2 linked regions of the Homo sapiens genome follow. The protein of the gene in region 1 purifies or fractionates together with the protein of each later gene. This does not show direct contact. Each region holds a gene or a part of one and is shown in the gene's direction. Other genes may lie near its edges.

Evidence for each region.
Region 2: the proteins of SERHL2 (region 1) and DAAM1 purify together in Homo sapiens (affinity purification with mass spectrometry; 2 studies listed by BioGRID and IntAct, with this or other methods). This does not show direct contact.

Annotation. Positions count from the first base shown.
Region 1 is NC_000022.11:42,555,941-42,565,017, forward strand, and holds part of SERHL2 (serine hydrolase-like protein 2), read left to right. Parts: intron 1-107; exon of another isoform or gene 108-123; coding exon 124-143; intron 144-573; coding exon 574-648; intron 649-2,407; coding exon 2,408-2,517; intron 2,518-4,245; coding exon 4,246-4,325; intron 4,326-7,448; coding exon of another isoform or gene 7,449-7,529; intron 7,530-9,077. UniProt on the Homo sapiens protein: Probable serine hydrolase. May be related to cell muscle hypertrophy.
Region 2 is NC_000014.9:59,366,667-59,371,903, forward strand, and holds the end of DAAM1 (disheveled-associated activator of morphogenesis 1), read left to right. Parts: intron 1-762; coding exon 763-933; intron 934-1,983; coding exon 1,984-2,193; 3' UTR 2,194-4,737; downstream 4,738-5,237. UniProt on the Homo sapiens protein: Binds to disheveled (Dvl) and Rho, and mediates Wnt-induced Dvl-Rho complex formation. May play a role as a scaffolding protein to recruit Rho-GDP and Rho-GEF, thereby enhancing Rho-GTP formation. Can direct nucleation and elongation of new actin filaments.

The DNA of each region.
Region 1 (9,077 bases):
CAGATGCTGAGCCCCCAGCCACCCATATGGTGCCCCCCCCCCCCAACTGGTGGGAAGAAGCTTTAGGGTATGCAGCTGGGGAGGGAGTGAGGGAATGTCACCCACAGCTCTTTTGTCCCCCAGGTGGCGTCGTGGGCGGAATGGTGAGTAGATGGCTTTGTCTGGCCAACTGGGGCTCCCTTGGGTGGAGTGGGGAGGGGAGCACAAAGGAGGAAGGAGAAGGTACCTGGGACAGAAAGTGCCTCCTCCTGTCACAGTGACAGTCCTTATACCAGGAAGTTGGTGTAAACGGTGGAGACTCCTGGTAGAGTTCATGTTTCCACGCCCCCATACCCGGTCCCACCGCACCCTGGAGTCCAGCCATCACCAAGGTCTGGAGCTCAGTGCTGGGTGCAGACTTAGGGGTGGTGGGGGAAGGCACACCATAGATAGAAGATTCTCCTCTGGCCTCTTGGTCAGCACCCTCCCCCCAGCCTAAAAGATGTTTCGGGGAACTCCAGGGTCCCCAGGGAAAGGCGGGAGTGTCCTTTCCTTCTTCCCCCTATTCATTCTCCCCTTTTGGCATCCTCACAGTTTTTCTGTACCTTCCCCGAGATGGTGGATAAACTTATCTTGCTGGACACGCCGCTCTTTCTCCTGGAATCAGATGTGAGAAGCGGGCTTTCGTGCATGCTGTCATTAGGGAGGACCTGGGCCCCGGGCAGCGCTCCCAGCCCTGTCTCCTTTGGTGGACACTAGGGAAGCACGAGGAGGCGGCAGAGGGTGGGAAAGGGGAGTCAGGGACCCGCTCCCCAACAGATGACAGGCTTCTGCTGCTTATACCCCTAGCAGTGGTCAGGACAAGGGGTGTGGGGGACCCCTTGGAAACTGGATGTGTGGCTCGGGATCTGCAGAATGCCAGGCTGATCACGCAGTGGCAGGCAGTGGAAGAGGGCAGCGGCCATGGGTGGAAGATGTTCTAGGGCACACAGCTGGGCCGGCACACTGCACTCACACCCAGTCGAATGCCTTTGCACTGTGTCCACATTGCACCACCACACATGACAGCCCTAAATGTGAACTGAAGGAACAAGGACTGACCCCTCTGACCACCACTACCCATAACCAGTACTGTCTCTGCGTCTGAGTCCTGGCCTGGTTTACCTGCTGGGTGACCCCTGGCAAGTTACTTTGCCTCTCTGGGCCTTAGTTCCCGCACGTGTAAAATGAGGTTGGGCTCAATGACCTGGCCAGCTCTGACATCCTGTCATTTTCTTGCCAAGGTCTCAGCCTATCAGTTGTGACACAAGTCTCATCAGTTTCAGTTTTCTTGTCCATAGAATGACCACAGATCGGCCAGATGCGGTGGCTCACGCCTGTAATCCCAGCACTTTGGGAGGCCGAGGCTGGCGGATCACCTGAGGTCAGGATTTCGAGACCAGCCTGACCAACATGGAGAAATCCCGTCTCTACTGAAAGTACAAAATTAGCTGGGCGTGGTGGCACATGCCTGTCATCCCAGCTACTTGGGAGGCCGAGGCAGGAGAATCGCTTGAACCCAGGAGGCGGAGGTTGCAGTGAGCCGAGATTGCGCCATTGCACTCCAGCCTGGGCAACAAGAGGGAAACTCCGTCTCCCAAAAAAAAAAAAAAAAAAAAAAAAAAGAATGACGGCAGATCCCATAAGGATAAGGATCATGTCCATCTCTGTCACCACATCCCCAATCCTGGCACCTAGTAAGGGCTCAGTAAATGTTCCTTGCATGAGCTCAGCTAGCTCAGGGGCTATTATAAGGATCCAATTTACAGATGGCAGACAGCAGACACTCCCTTCTTTCTGCATTTCACCCACTGAATTGACAAGTGCAGTGCCCCCAGGGGCTTCCTCCTGGGCGAGTCAAGAGGGGCATTTGGTCCTCTTGTCCTGCATTCTCAGGCATGGGTAGATGGGAGATGCCCCCCTCTGCAGCCCCAGGCAGTGGGCCTGAGGCTGTCCTCACAGAGTGAGCCACACATCATGGGGGAGCTTGGAAGCCCCAGAAATGCGCCCTTTCTGCCAGTCCCTTTCTGCCACTGAGAATGATGGCATTCGTTGAACCAGATGAAACTGCCAACCCCAGATGGTTCGTGGCCTCCGGACCCTAATTTCATGCCTTTGCAAAGCACTTGGCAGTTGACAGAGATTCCCCTTCCTCTCCATCATCCCACCTGATCTCTTCAACTGTCCCTGGCCGCAGGCAAGACCAGGCTGGCTGTGACTGAGGCGAAGCAAAGACTCGTTCAGAATCGTGGGGCTGACTAGCCAGGGCTGGGGCTGTGTGCCCCTTTGCCGAGAGGGGCTCAGCTGAGAGCAGAGGGCAGGGCTAGGAGGGGCAGAGACCTCGTCTGCAGCCTGGATCCCTGCCCACCAGCCAACTGTGCCTCCTTAGGAAATGGAGAACTTGCTGACCTACAAGCGGAGAGCCATAGAGCACGTGCTGCAGGTAGAGGCCTCCCAGGAGCCCTCGCACGTGTTCAGCCTGAAGCAGCTGCTGCAGAGGTGGGTGCCCGGTGTGGACGGGGAGCTGGTGGGGTCCAGGGGAGGACATCCCGTGAGACGTGGAGAAGCTTCTTTCTCCCTCTCACCCAACAAGCCTGTTTCTCCCTGGGGTCACGCTGAGCACCAGGCTTCCCAGGGTCTTCAGGGACGTTCTCTCTTTCCCTCTGCCCCTGCTCCAGCCATGCCCCTTACTTCCAATACCCTCCCCACACCTCTCACGCACCCGCCTCTCTCCCAAGCACATGCTGCTTCCACGCCTTCTCTCCCCTCTGGGACTCCAGCCTGGGCTCCCTTACCTGGAATTCTCCCCTGTGCTTGCTCACTGGCTTCCCCACTCCTTGGGGCCTCAGCTGGGAACCCTGCCCTGACACCCCCAGGCAAGCTGTCCCTGCCCTGCAGGTAACCACACTGTCCAATAAGAGCCTATTGATTCCTCTGTTTCCCGAGGCATGTGAACTCCGCAACCCCCACTATGGCTGATTTGGTCATCTTTGTGCCTCCTGCATCTGGCAGTGGGCCTGGTAGGTCAGAGCTCCACACATATTTGTTGTCTGAAGGAGGAGAAGCCCCCCACTGCCCCACCACACGCACGCGCACACACACCCACACACACACACCCTGCCGCTGTAAACATGCAATCGAAACACGGGACACAGGCCAGGCGCAGTGGCTCACACCTGTAATCCCAGCACATTGGGAAGCTGAGGTGGGAAGATAGCTTGAGCCCAGGAGTTAGAGACCAGCCTGAGCGAGATAGCGAGACCCTGTATTTAAAAAAAAAAAAAAAAAAAAAAAAAAATTAGCTGGTCGTGGTGGCACACGCCTGTGGTCCCAGCTACTCAGCAGCCTTAGTTGGGAGGAGTGCTTAGCCCCAGGAGGTCGAGGCTGCAGACAGCCATGATCATGCCACTGCACTCCAGTCTGGGTGACAAAGTGAGACCCTGTCTCAATTAGAATACAAGGTCCAGGCACGGTGGCTCATGCCTGTAATCCCAGCACTTTGGAAGGCGGAGGTGGGCAGATTACGAGGTCAGGAGATTGAGAACATCATGGCTAAGATGGTGAAACCCTGTGTCTACTAAAAAATACAAAAAATTAGCCAAGCGTGGTGGTGGCGGGCGCCTGAATATCTATCCAGAAGAGGCGTTAGACATTCTCTAGATGTAACGAAGAATGGCATGAACCCGGGAGGCAGAGCTTGCAGTGAACCCAGATTGCGCCACTGTACTCCAGCCTGGGCAACAGAGCAAGACTCTGTCTCACAAAGAAAAAAAAAGAAAAAAAAATCACGAGACACATGCACGCTTTGTGGGTGACCTCCCTTTTGCTGCCCTTGTCTCCATTTTTTTGTTGTTGTTGTGTTTTGTTTTTGGAGACCAAATCTCGCTCTGTTCCCCAGGCTAGAGTGCAGTGGCACAATCTCAGCTCACTGCAACCTCTGCCTCCTGGGTTCAAGTGATTCTCATGCCTCAGCTTCCCAAGTAGCTGGGATTACAGGCACATGCCACCATGTCCAGCTAAGTTTTGTATTTTTAGTAGAGATGAGGTTTTACCATGTTGGCCAGGCTGGTCTCAAACTCCTGACCTCAGATGATCCGCCCATCTTGTCCTCCCAAAGTGCTGGGATTACAGGCATGAGCCACCGTCCCCCCCGGCCCTCCTCTCCTTTTTATCTGACCTCCTTTTTATTGGCCTCCAGGCACCCAGCATCCTTCTGTCTCCCCCCAGGTTACTGAAGAGCAATAGCCACTTGAGTGAGGAGTGCGGGGAGCTTCTCCTGCAAAGAGGAACCACGAAGGTGGCCACAGGTAAGGGACTCTACTGTCCAAGGCCATTTTATATTTGTCACTATTCTTACCGAGGATGTCAAGGACTTGCCTTAGACCAGGCAGGATACTAAGCGCTTTGCAAACAGCATCTCACTGAATCCCCCTCCTGCCTCACCCTCATCCCATTTAGAGCAGGAGAAACCAAGGCTCAGCATTGCCAAGCAACCCGGGTGAGGCCATACAGTTACTGCACATCCCAGAAAGCCACGCTCTGGGAGAGTTTGGTCAGGTGTCTTGGACTAAATGTTGGTGAATGTCACGGCCATGCTCTGCTGGATCTGGGGTGGGTGCCCAGCGCCAGAGGCAGGCTGTGAGGACGTCCCAGGGGCTGAGTGACTTGGGAGAGGCTTTTCACAATGGAGAGGTGGAGCTGGTATGTCTTGGTTTCAGAGCAGCTTCTGGCACAAGCGATTTGTGTACTTTGCTTTTTACCCAGGAATTTTTTTTCTTTCGTTCTTTTTTCTTATGAGACAAGGTCTCGCTCTGTCACCTAGGCTGGAGTGCGGTGGCACCATCATGGCTCACTGCAGCCTCCACCTCCCGGGCTCCAGAGATCGTCCCACCTCAGCCTCCTGAGTAGCTGGGACTACAGGTGTGAGCTACTGTGCCTGGCCCAGGAAATCTTTTGTAAGGGCCTGCTACAGGCCCGGCTCAGTGAGGCTGCAGTGAGCAAGAGCCGACTGTCCCTCTCTCAGTGGGGCCAGACCTCCCGCACCACAACTCCAGGGGCTGCTGTGCACAAATGGCGCCCCCTGGAGTTGAGTAAGGAAGAGTCTGGGCAGAGGCCTAGATTCTTGGAAGAGAAGCAGATGATACACAGGTGAACAGGCACATGAGTGGTTAGACATTCTCTAGATGTAATGAAGGAAATACATGGTGCTCTAGAAGAGACTCATGGCGGGGCCTGCTTCAGAGCAGTGGTCCAGGAAGCAGCTCTCCCAGGGTGAGGGAACAGCTGGAGGGAGATGGTGTCGTCGGATGGAAAATGTGCTAAGCTGGGCAACACAACTTTGCTTCCTGACACTGCCAGCTCAGTGATCTTGGGACAGTCCCTTCCCTTTTAGACTCCCCTTGTTTGCTCAGGTGACAAACAAGGTCTTGGGTTTTTTGCGCTCATTGGACCAGGTGAGGTGGGCATGTGCCTTCCCTTTATAAAGTGCTGAGTGAGGCAGGGGGTCAGAAACTCCAGCACCTGGGGGCGGGGGTGGGGGCGTGTTGTGGAGTTGAGGGTGCAGGCCGGGAGGGAGGCTATGGGCTGTGTAGGGACTTTGGAGCTGGAGGCAGCCCACCCTGGTAGGCAGCTGGGCCGGTGCTAATCAAGTGGGAATTCAGTCTCGTGTGGCCAGAATTACCAGTTGCTCAGCTCTGCAGTTGATCTGCTGAGGTGAGTATTTTTAGTTGTCTTGAGTCCAGAAATGGACAGCATCCCCCGAGGGTCTAAGGAGCGGCACCTGTGGGCTGTTTTGGCCTCGGGTCGCCAGTTTGGGACCAGTTGGGTCTTCGTGATCATCTTGGCTGAACCTTTATCTTGCCTCCCTGGAAACCCATCATGGGGAGGGGAGGTCAAGGACCCCGGGCCCAGGCTTCCTGGACATGCCTCACGGATGGCTGACCTAGGGAGCCCCAGGCACAGAAGTGAGCTAATCTGGAATGAGGCCGGGGAATTCGATTAGGCCCAGGTCACAGGAAACAGTGAATGCAGGATGCTGACCAGGCACCCCTATGTGGGTGTCAGGGGGGTGAGGGAACAGGCAAGAGGGAGGGCTGAGAAAGAGGTGAACCCTGGGTCTGGGGGAAGTGGTCAGCTGGCTGGAACGTTGTGTGCAGACAAGCCCTCTGCAGCAGTTGTGGCCTTTTGGGACCCAGCATTAACCTAAAAGAAGACAGTACCCAGCCAGAACCCCCCACCCAGTGCCTCAAGGACAATGTAGGTTCCTCCCAAATGCTTCCCTCCAACCCCAGGGCCCCTGAGAGTTCACATTCTATTCTGAACTGGGATAACTTCCCTTCCCTGCCCCCATCATCCAACCTGATTCCTCCAGAATCTGGAGCTTAAACAACCAAGACACATTCCCCCACAGTTCCGGAGTTCAGGGTCCAAGGTCAAGGCCTCGGCAGGGCTGGTTCCTTCTGAGGGCTGTGAGGGAGTATCTGTTCCCACCTCTCTGGCTGCTGGGAGCCTCAGGAGCCCGTTGGCTTGTGTGTGAGGTTCTCTGGGTGGGTTACAGAGTGCGTGAGAAGGGGAGGGCTCGTGGAGGACGCAGAGTGGGGAGGGCAGCGAGCATTGTTGGAGAGGCTGCAGCTCCACTTCCTCTTTTGAATAGGAAGGTCTGGGTGGGCCTCATGAGAAGGTGACTTTTGAGCAAAGCAGTGAAGGTACGGGAGCTGCTCCTACGGACTCCAGGAGGAGAAAGGAGCTGGCAGGACAGGCCTGGAGGTGTGAGCTGGTGGTGCAGGATGGGGAGAGAGCAGCAGAGATGAGCTCTTTATCTTCTCATCTAAGTTTAAGCCCCACAATACTGGCTTTCTGGAAACCATCTTGAGGTGTTCCCATGAAGGAGGGAGGGGCCCACTCTGCCTGGGGTGCCCTAAGGACAGAGGGACAGTCTGTGTCAGTCTGGCCCCTGGCCAAGCGTATTCACACATGCCTGTAATCCCAGCACTTTGGGAGTCCAGGTGGGAGGACTGTTTGAGGCCAGGAGTTCAAGACCAGCCTGGGCAATATAGGGAGACACCCCCATCTCTACAAAAAATTCAAAAATAAACGGCATGGTGGCACACCTGTGGTCCCAGCTACTTAGGAGGCTGAAGTGGGAGACTCACATGAGCTCAGGAGTCGGAGGCTGCATTGAACCTTGATTGTGCCACTGCACTCTAGCAAGACCCTGGCTTTTTCTTTTTTTCTTTTTTTTTTTTTTTGTTGTTGTTGTTGTTTTCAACAGGGTCTTGCTCTGTCACTCAGGCTGGAATGCAGTGGCGTGACCATGGCTCACTGCAGCCTTGGCCTCATGGGCTCAGGCGATCCTCCTACCTCAGCCTCTTGAGTAGCTGGGACCACAAGTGTGCAGACCACACCTGGCTAATTTTTGTATTTTTTTGTAGAGATGGAGTTTCGCCATGTTGCCCAGGCTGGTCTCGAACTCCTGAACTCAAGCGATCCTACTGACTCGACCTCCCAAAATGGTAGGATTACAGGTGTGAGTCACCATGCCCAGCCAACCCTGTCTTAAAAACAAAACAAAAATATCTGGCCCCTGAAGCCCCGTGCTGTGGGGGAGGCTCAAATCTTTCTCATAAGCTGGACTGCATACAGGTTGCAGATAATAATTTGTTTAACTTGTGCAGTTTAATCAAAAACATTTGGCATGGGGGGAATTTTGAATAGATTGCCCACATTTTATTTTTTATTATACTCTTTTTATTTTTTGGAGGAAGGGCCCAAGGACCAGAGCAGAAGGGCTATTATTTTAAATAGAAAGATTTTATGTAAAAATACAGATTTCTAGACCAGGCACAGTGGCTCATGCCTGTAATCCCAGCGCTTTGGGAGGCTGAGGTGGGTGAATCACCTGATGTTGGGAGTTCGAGACCACCCTGACCAACATGGAGAAACCCCGTCTCTACTAAAAATACAAAAGTAGTTGGGCGTGATGGCGCATGCCTGTAATCCCAGCTACTGGGGAGGCTGAGGCAAGAGAATCGCTTGAACCGGGAGGTGGAGGTTGCAGTGAGCTGAGATCATACCATTGCACTCTAGCCTGGGCAACAAGAGTGAAACTTCGTCTCAGAAAAAAAAAAGACAAGAAAAAACATGTCTTTTGTATGGCTTCTGGAATTTGAGTCATAGTTAAAAGGTCATGCTTGACACTAATATTATTTTGGGTCTAGCACTAGCATTTAAATATTTACTACATTGGATCCTTATCTAGTATACAAAGTGAGGTTTGCATCTGACTTCATCTTTTTCCAGATGGCTCCTCAGGTGCCTAATGCCATTTTTAGACAAGTCTATCTTTACCCTGTTCATGTAAGGGGCTGCCTTGGTCAGACAGTGAATGCCCATCTGTACTTGGGTCTGTCTCTGACTGCCTGTCTATGATCTTACTGTACCACACATTTTAAACTGAGGCCCGACACAGGATTTTTTTTTTTCTTTTTTTTTGAGACGGGGTCTTGCTTTTGTCGTCCAAGCTGGAGTATAATGGCACAATCTCGGCTCACCGCAACCTCCACCTCCTGGGTTCAAGTAATTCTCCTGCCTCAGTCTGCCAAGTAGCTGGGATTACAGGTGCCCACCACCATGCCTGGCTAATTTTTGTATTTTTAGTAGAGATGGGGTTCACCATGTTGGCCAGGCTGGTCTCGAACTCCTGACCTCAGGTGATCCACCTGTCTTGGCCTCCCAAAGTATTGGGATTTCAGGTGTGAGCCACCGCACCCGGCCTGAGGATTTTCGCATCTGACGGGACCGTCTCCCTTCATGGCTCTTTTACAGAGTTTTTCTACTAGTCTTTTTTCTTTTCCTTTTTGAGACAGGGTCTTGCTGTGTTGGCCAGACTGGATTGCAGTGGCAGGATCTCGGCTCACTGCAGCCTCTGCCTCCTGGGCTCAAAGAACCCTTCCACTTGAGTCTTCCCAGTAGCTGGGACTACAGGAGTGTGCCACCATGCTCGGCGCGCGCGTGTGTGTGTGTGTGTGTGTACACGCAACAAGGCCATTTATTTCACCTGG
Region 2 (5,237 bases), on another chromosome or scaffold:
GAGGAGTATTACAATTTTTACTTTAGAAATGATTAATAGACATGTTCAGCAGCTGAAGATAAATATAGGCTCACTAAAATCCATCAGTTATATTTGACTCAGCCGGGTGCAGCGGCACATGCCTATAGTCCCAGCTACTCGTGAGGCTTAAGAGGAAGGATTGCCCAGGAGTTTTTGGCTGTATTTTGCTGTGATCATACCTCTGAATAGCCACTAAACTCCAACCTGGGTAACATGTAAGACCCCATCTATTAAAAAAAAAAAAAACTAATAACATATGCATTCCAGCCTGGGCAACATGTAAGACCCCATCTCTTAAAACAAAACAACAAAAAAAAACTGCCGGGTGTGGTGGCTGAAACCTGTAATCCCAGCACTTTGGGAGGCCAAGGTGGGCAGATCACCTGAGGTCAGAAGTTGAGACCAGCCCGGCCAACATGGCAAAATCCTGACTCTACTAAAAATACAAAAATTAGCCAGGCATGGTGGTTTGTGCCTGTAATCCCAGCTACTTGGGAGGTTGAGGCTGGAGAATCGCTTGAACCCGAGAGACAGAGGTTGCAGTGAGCTGGGATCATGCCACTGCACTCCAGCCTGGGTGATGGCGAAACTCCATCTCCAAAAGAAAGAAAGAAATAAAAATAAATGAGCAAACAAAACTTACGTTTGACTCAATCTGGGCTTTGGTCTTTCTCAAGTTATTTATATTTGATTGTGGAATTCTCATGAAACATTGACTTCTTAAAACCATCTTTTTCCTAGTTTACTAAAGCAGTGAAGCACTTTGGGGAAGAGGCTGGCAAAATACAACCAGATGAGTTCTTTGGCATTTTTGATCAATTTCTTCAAGCTGTGTCAGAAGCCAAACAAGAAAACGAAAATATGAGAAAGAAAAAGGAGGAAGAAGAACGTCGAGCTCGCATGGAAGCTCAGGTGAGAGGATGATTAATTGACCAATTCCACCTCCTAGAAGTTCTATGACTGCAGCCCAGTCAAAGGTATTTAGAGAGCACTCTGACCTGGCAGGAAGGAAGGCTTCAATGTACTCTCTAGAATGCTGTGGGACTTTACATTGGTGTTGTTTCTCTTGGGCTATTTAACAGTGTATATTCAAAGCCTTAAAAAAAAAATCTATCCACATCCTTTGCTCTGGAATTCCATTTCTTAGCAATTATTTTAAAGAAATAATCATAAATTTACACAAAAAAGGGCAGCATTCTTTATAATAGCACCAAGCTAAAGACAACCTAAATGTTTACCAAAAGGGGATGAGTTCTAAATGATATAACAGCCATATAATGGAATATTTATGCAGTCCTTGAAAGACATGTATTCAAAGAATAATGATACAGAAAAAGATTTCTACATGAAATCTTTTTCTGTTTTGTTTTTTAAGGTGTGTTAATACATATAGAAAATAATAGTGGTGTGATAAACCTTTAAAAAGTTCACAGTAGTAGAATTAAAGATGTTTCCCCCACCTTCCTTTTATCTGAATTATCCAAATTGTCTACAATGTGTATGTATTAGTTGGCTTTTAATAACAGTAACTATTGTGTATCAGGTTTCAGGCTTCCACAGTAGACACAAGCTAAGCCTTTGATATAAGGAAAATGGCCTGATGACCATTTGCTTTAGTTATTTGGGGTCTATGTAATAGTGATACCTTTTTTTTAATTTTCATTAGCAGAAACACAAATTGCCTCAATTGCTCTTATTTTAACTAGAATATCATGCAGTTTACCTAGAATCTAGGTGGTGAGGGTCTAACCACAAGGGAGTGGTTGTTTTTTGTTGTCCATTGCTCCTGCAATGGAGACCCCATGTTCCAATTCCCCCTTTCTTGTGATATCCAAAGGGGGTTATAGGATGAGCATAGCTTGGTGTCTGGAGCATTACCATATTTCAAGGAATTGACCTCTACTGCAAACAAAATGCAACATTTTGACATGTCTCAAAGAGGTTATTTCTTTCTATTTGCAGCTCAAAGAACAACGTGAAAGGGAACGTAAAATGAGAAAAGCTAAAGAGAATAGTGAAGAAAGCGGAGAGTTTGATGACCTTGTTTCAGCTTTACGCTCAGGAGAAGTGTTTGACAAAGACCTTTCTAAATTGAAACGGAATCGCAAACGTATTACCAACCAGATGACTGACAGCAGCAGAGAGAGACCAATCACAAAACTTAATTTCTAATTTTCCATGAATACTTTTTTTTAGAAAGCTCATTAGCAGCCCTCTAAAGTGACTAGAACGTTTCATTACACTGCCTTGCAATCCAAACAGTGGCAATTTTTTCCTTCATCTGTGAGTGAATGTGTGAACGTGTGTATGTAAATGTATGTGTGTATATATTAAAAAATGTATATAGATGTCTGAGTGTTGTCTGGAGACCTATACGTATGGTTAAAAAGATTTATGTTAATGTATGTGCTCCAAAACCTTTCGTGTATGCATTCACATTGAGTGTGGCTCATTTTCTTTCCCCGAACGCCATGACTGTTCAGAAGCACAATACTATCTCCTGAAAGAGATAAGAGACATTCCCTAGATTCAAAGGCAAAACAGAAGAAACAAACAAACAAACAAAAAAAGCTTGCAAAATATTTTATGGTTTCCAAGCTTGATATCCTTTAAAATTATTTTCATTGATGGAACTGGAGTTGTTGGAAAAACATAGATTTAAAATGATTTTTGATAGCTGACATTGTGATGTTGATGTATCACATCAGTAATAGGACCAGCTTTGAATTTCTGACATTGGTGTGGGGATACAGTCTGTAAATGTTTATTGAGAACATCTTGCACACAATTTGAATTATGTAGAATGTCAATCAAGTTTTTGTATATTTAAAAGTTGGACATCAATTTTTTCCCCTGATTTCATCAAGTTATCTCTGCCAAGTGCTCTTGATAATTTCTTCAGATTTTTGGAAAAAAACACTATATAAATGCAATCCATGCTTTTTTTAAAGAACAACATTGCCAGAGTATGCTTGTTCTAACAATATAGATATATAAACCTTAAAAATAATAAAATATCTCACCCAAGACTTAAAGGAAGAATTCTCTGAAGGGATAAAGATTACTAAAAAAAAAAAAAAAAAAAAAAAATTAATGGGGTGCCTTTTTGTTATAGTTTCTATTTTCTGTTTTGTAGGACAAGCTGCATTTTCTGTAAATATAGGTCTGGACTAAAGGATACATAAAGAATGCACAAAATGTCAACATCAGCAGAGATGCCCAGATCTATTTATCTCTAAGTATATTTGAAGTGATTGCTGTTTATATGTTGTCATTTTAAAATTGTGTGTCAGTAAAGCTACCTGTAAAATTTCAGTCCAAAAAAATAAAGCTCTCAGGGAGACATGAATAAAATCAATGAACATTAGAAAATAAAATATAGATGCTTACCATTAACCTACCAACTCTTAATATCCTTAAATTATGTGATATATAAAGAGGACTGTTACTTTTTTACTTTTTTTTTTTTTTTTTTTTTTTTTTGGCTTTGCTTTATTTATTTGTAGTTGGGGGCTAACGTTTTCTCTTTTCTTTCTATTGATCCTGTTGTGGTTGGGTTTCCTGTGGAGAGAGTAGTTTGTCCTGTTGCACTAGAACATTATTTACTCACTAAATTGAGTTTTTCAGTCAATTAACAAATATTTATTAAGTTCCTACTATGTACCAGGCATAGTAGGGCTACAATGGTAAGCAAGACAGAGTCCCTGCCCCCAAAGAGCTTATATTCTAATGGGGATATTAAGGGATGAATAGAATACCAATGTGTGCACTGTACAGGAATCATACTATTTAAAAATAATTTGTATAAACTATAATGCTTAGCACAGATGGCGAGTTATCTGTGCTATGTGAAAGCTGTGAAATAGTGCTCTAAGAGTTGTCAAGAGCTGTGGTTTTACATCTTTTCCTCATTGCAAATTTAGTGACTTTCTACACACTATATGGAAATAAATGACTAGCAAATAAAACAGTCATAAATACAAAGCAGAGGTTGCACTCCCCCAATCCCGAGTTAACCCAGGTCTGCAATAACACCATGTTAAAGGTGCAGATAGAGACTTGGCTCAAAAAGGCTTGGAGATGAGGAAGATTGGAATATAATGATGGTTTTGTCTGTTCCTTAACTAAAGTGCCTCTATGTATATTCTTTTCTATTTGTAGCAGGATAAATTTGGTCTGGCTCAGTTTTGGAACTGTATTTTGAAAATGGCTTTGTCTTACAGTTTAAGGAATAGACAGGTGGAGGGAAAGTCACATAAAGGAGCAAGTTTGTGTAGCTGTCCCTCTTGCCCCTTTTAATCATCCTCCTTTGATATGGCCATCCTGGTGGGCCTCCTTTGCCATTTCCATTTTTGGTTTCTTTCCCTGAAAACTGTGTGCAGGTAATTCCATGTGCCATTGTTGAAAAGAAAAAAAAAAAACAAAAAAAAAACCTACTTTTTAGATTGGTGCTGGTGTAAGTAGCCACTTTTCTCTCTTGGGTGTGTATTTTAAACTTTTTTTGTTTTTTTAAATTAATGCCAAAAAGAAAATGCATAATTTGTAAACTTAATTATATGTCTTATATCTTATTAGCTTAGTAGTTGGAACCACTTAGTCTTTAGGTGCAAGACTGTTGTTAGATAGTACTGAGAAAAAAAAAGTATGTGTTATGAGACTGTACATGTTTTTTTAAAAATAGCAATATGCAATAAAGAGATGAATTCATTGGGTGTACATATATGCTTTCTATGAATTATTAAAACAGTGTCATCAAACTGCTTTGCAGTTTCCACCATTGAATTTCAATTTTGCAAATTGTTCACTGAATCGGAAATATATACCTGTTTTTAAACTTGTACTTACTGGACCTAGAAGAATATAGTTTTCTATTATGGCAGCATTCAGTATGTTCAGGTTATCATATGCCACCTCTTTCTATACTTGGTTTATGTATGAGTTATACAATTTCTTGTTATAACTCATGTATGGTAGGGCTACTGGTGAAATTATTCAACTAGAGTAGAGAAAATAATCTCTAGTCTCTAGAATCAAAGCCTTTTTGTTTTGAGGCATGTTTTTCTTATTAAAAATTAACTTGATATGGGTCAGTATGGGAAATGGCACCCATACAGATCAAGAAATTTGTTTATCAGTATCCTCTGAAAGTTGAAGCTTTCCCTTTGTCCTACATCACATTTGCTGCCTAGCCACCCTTAGCTCAATTTAAGTTCACG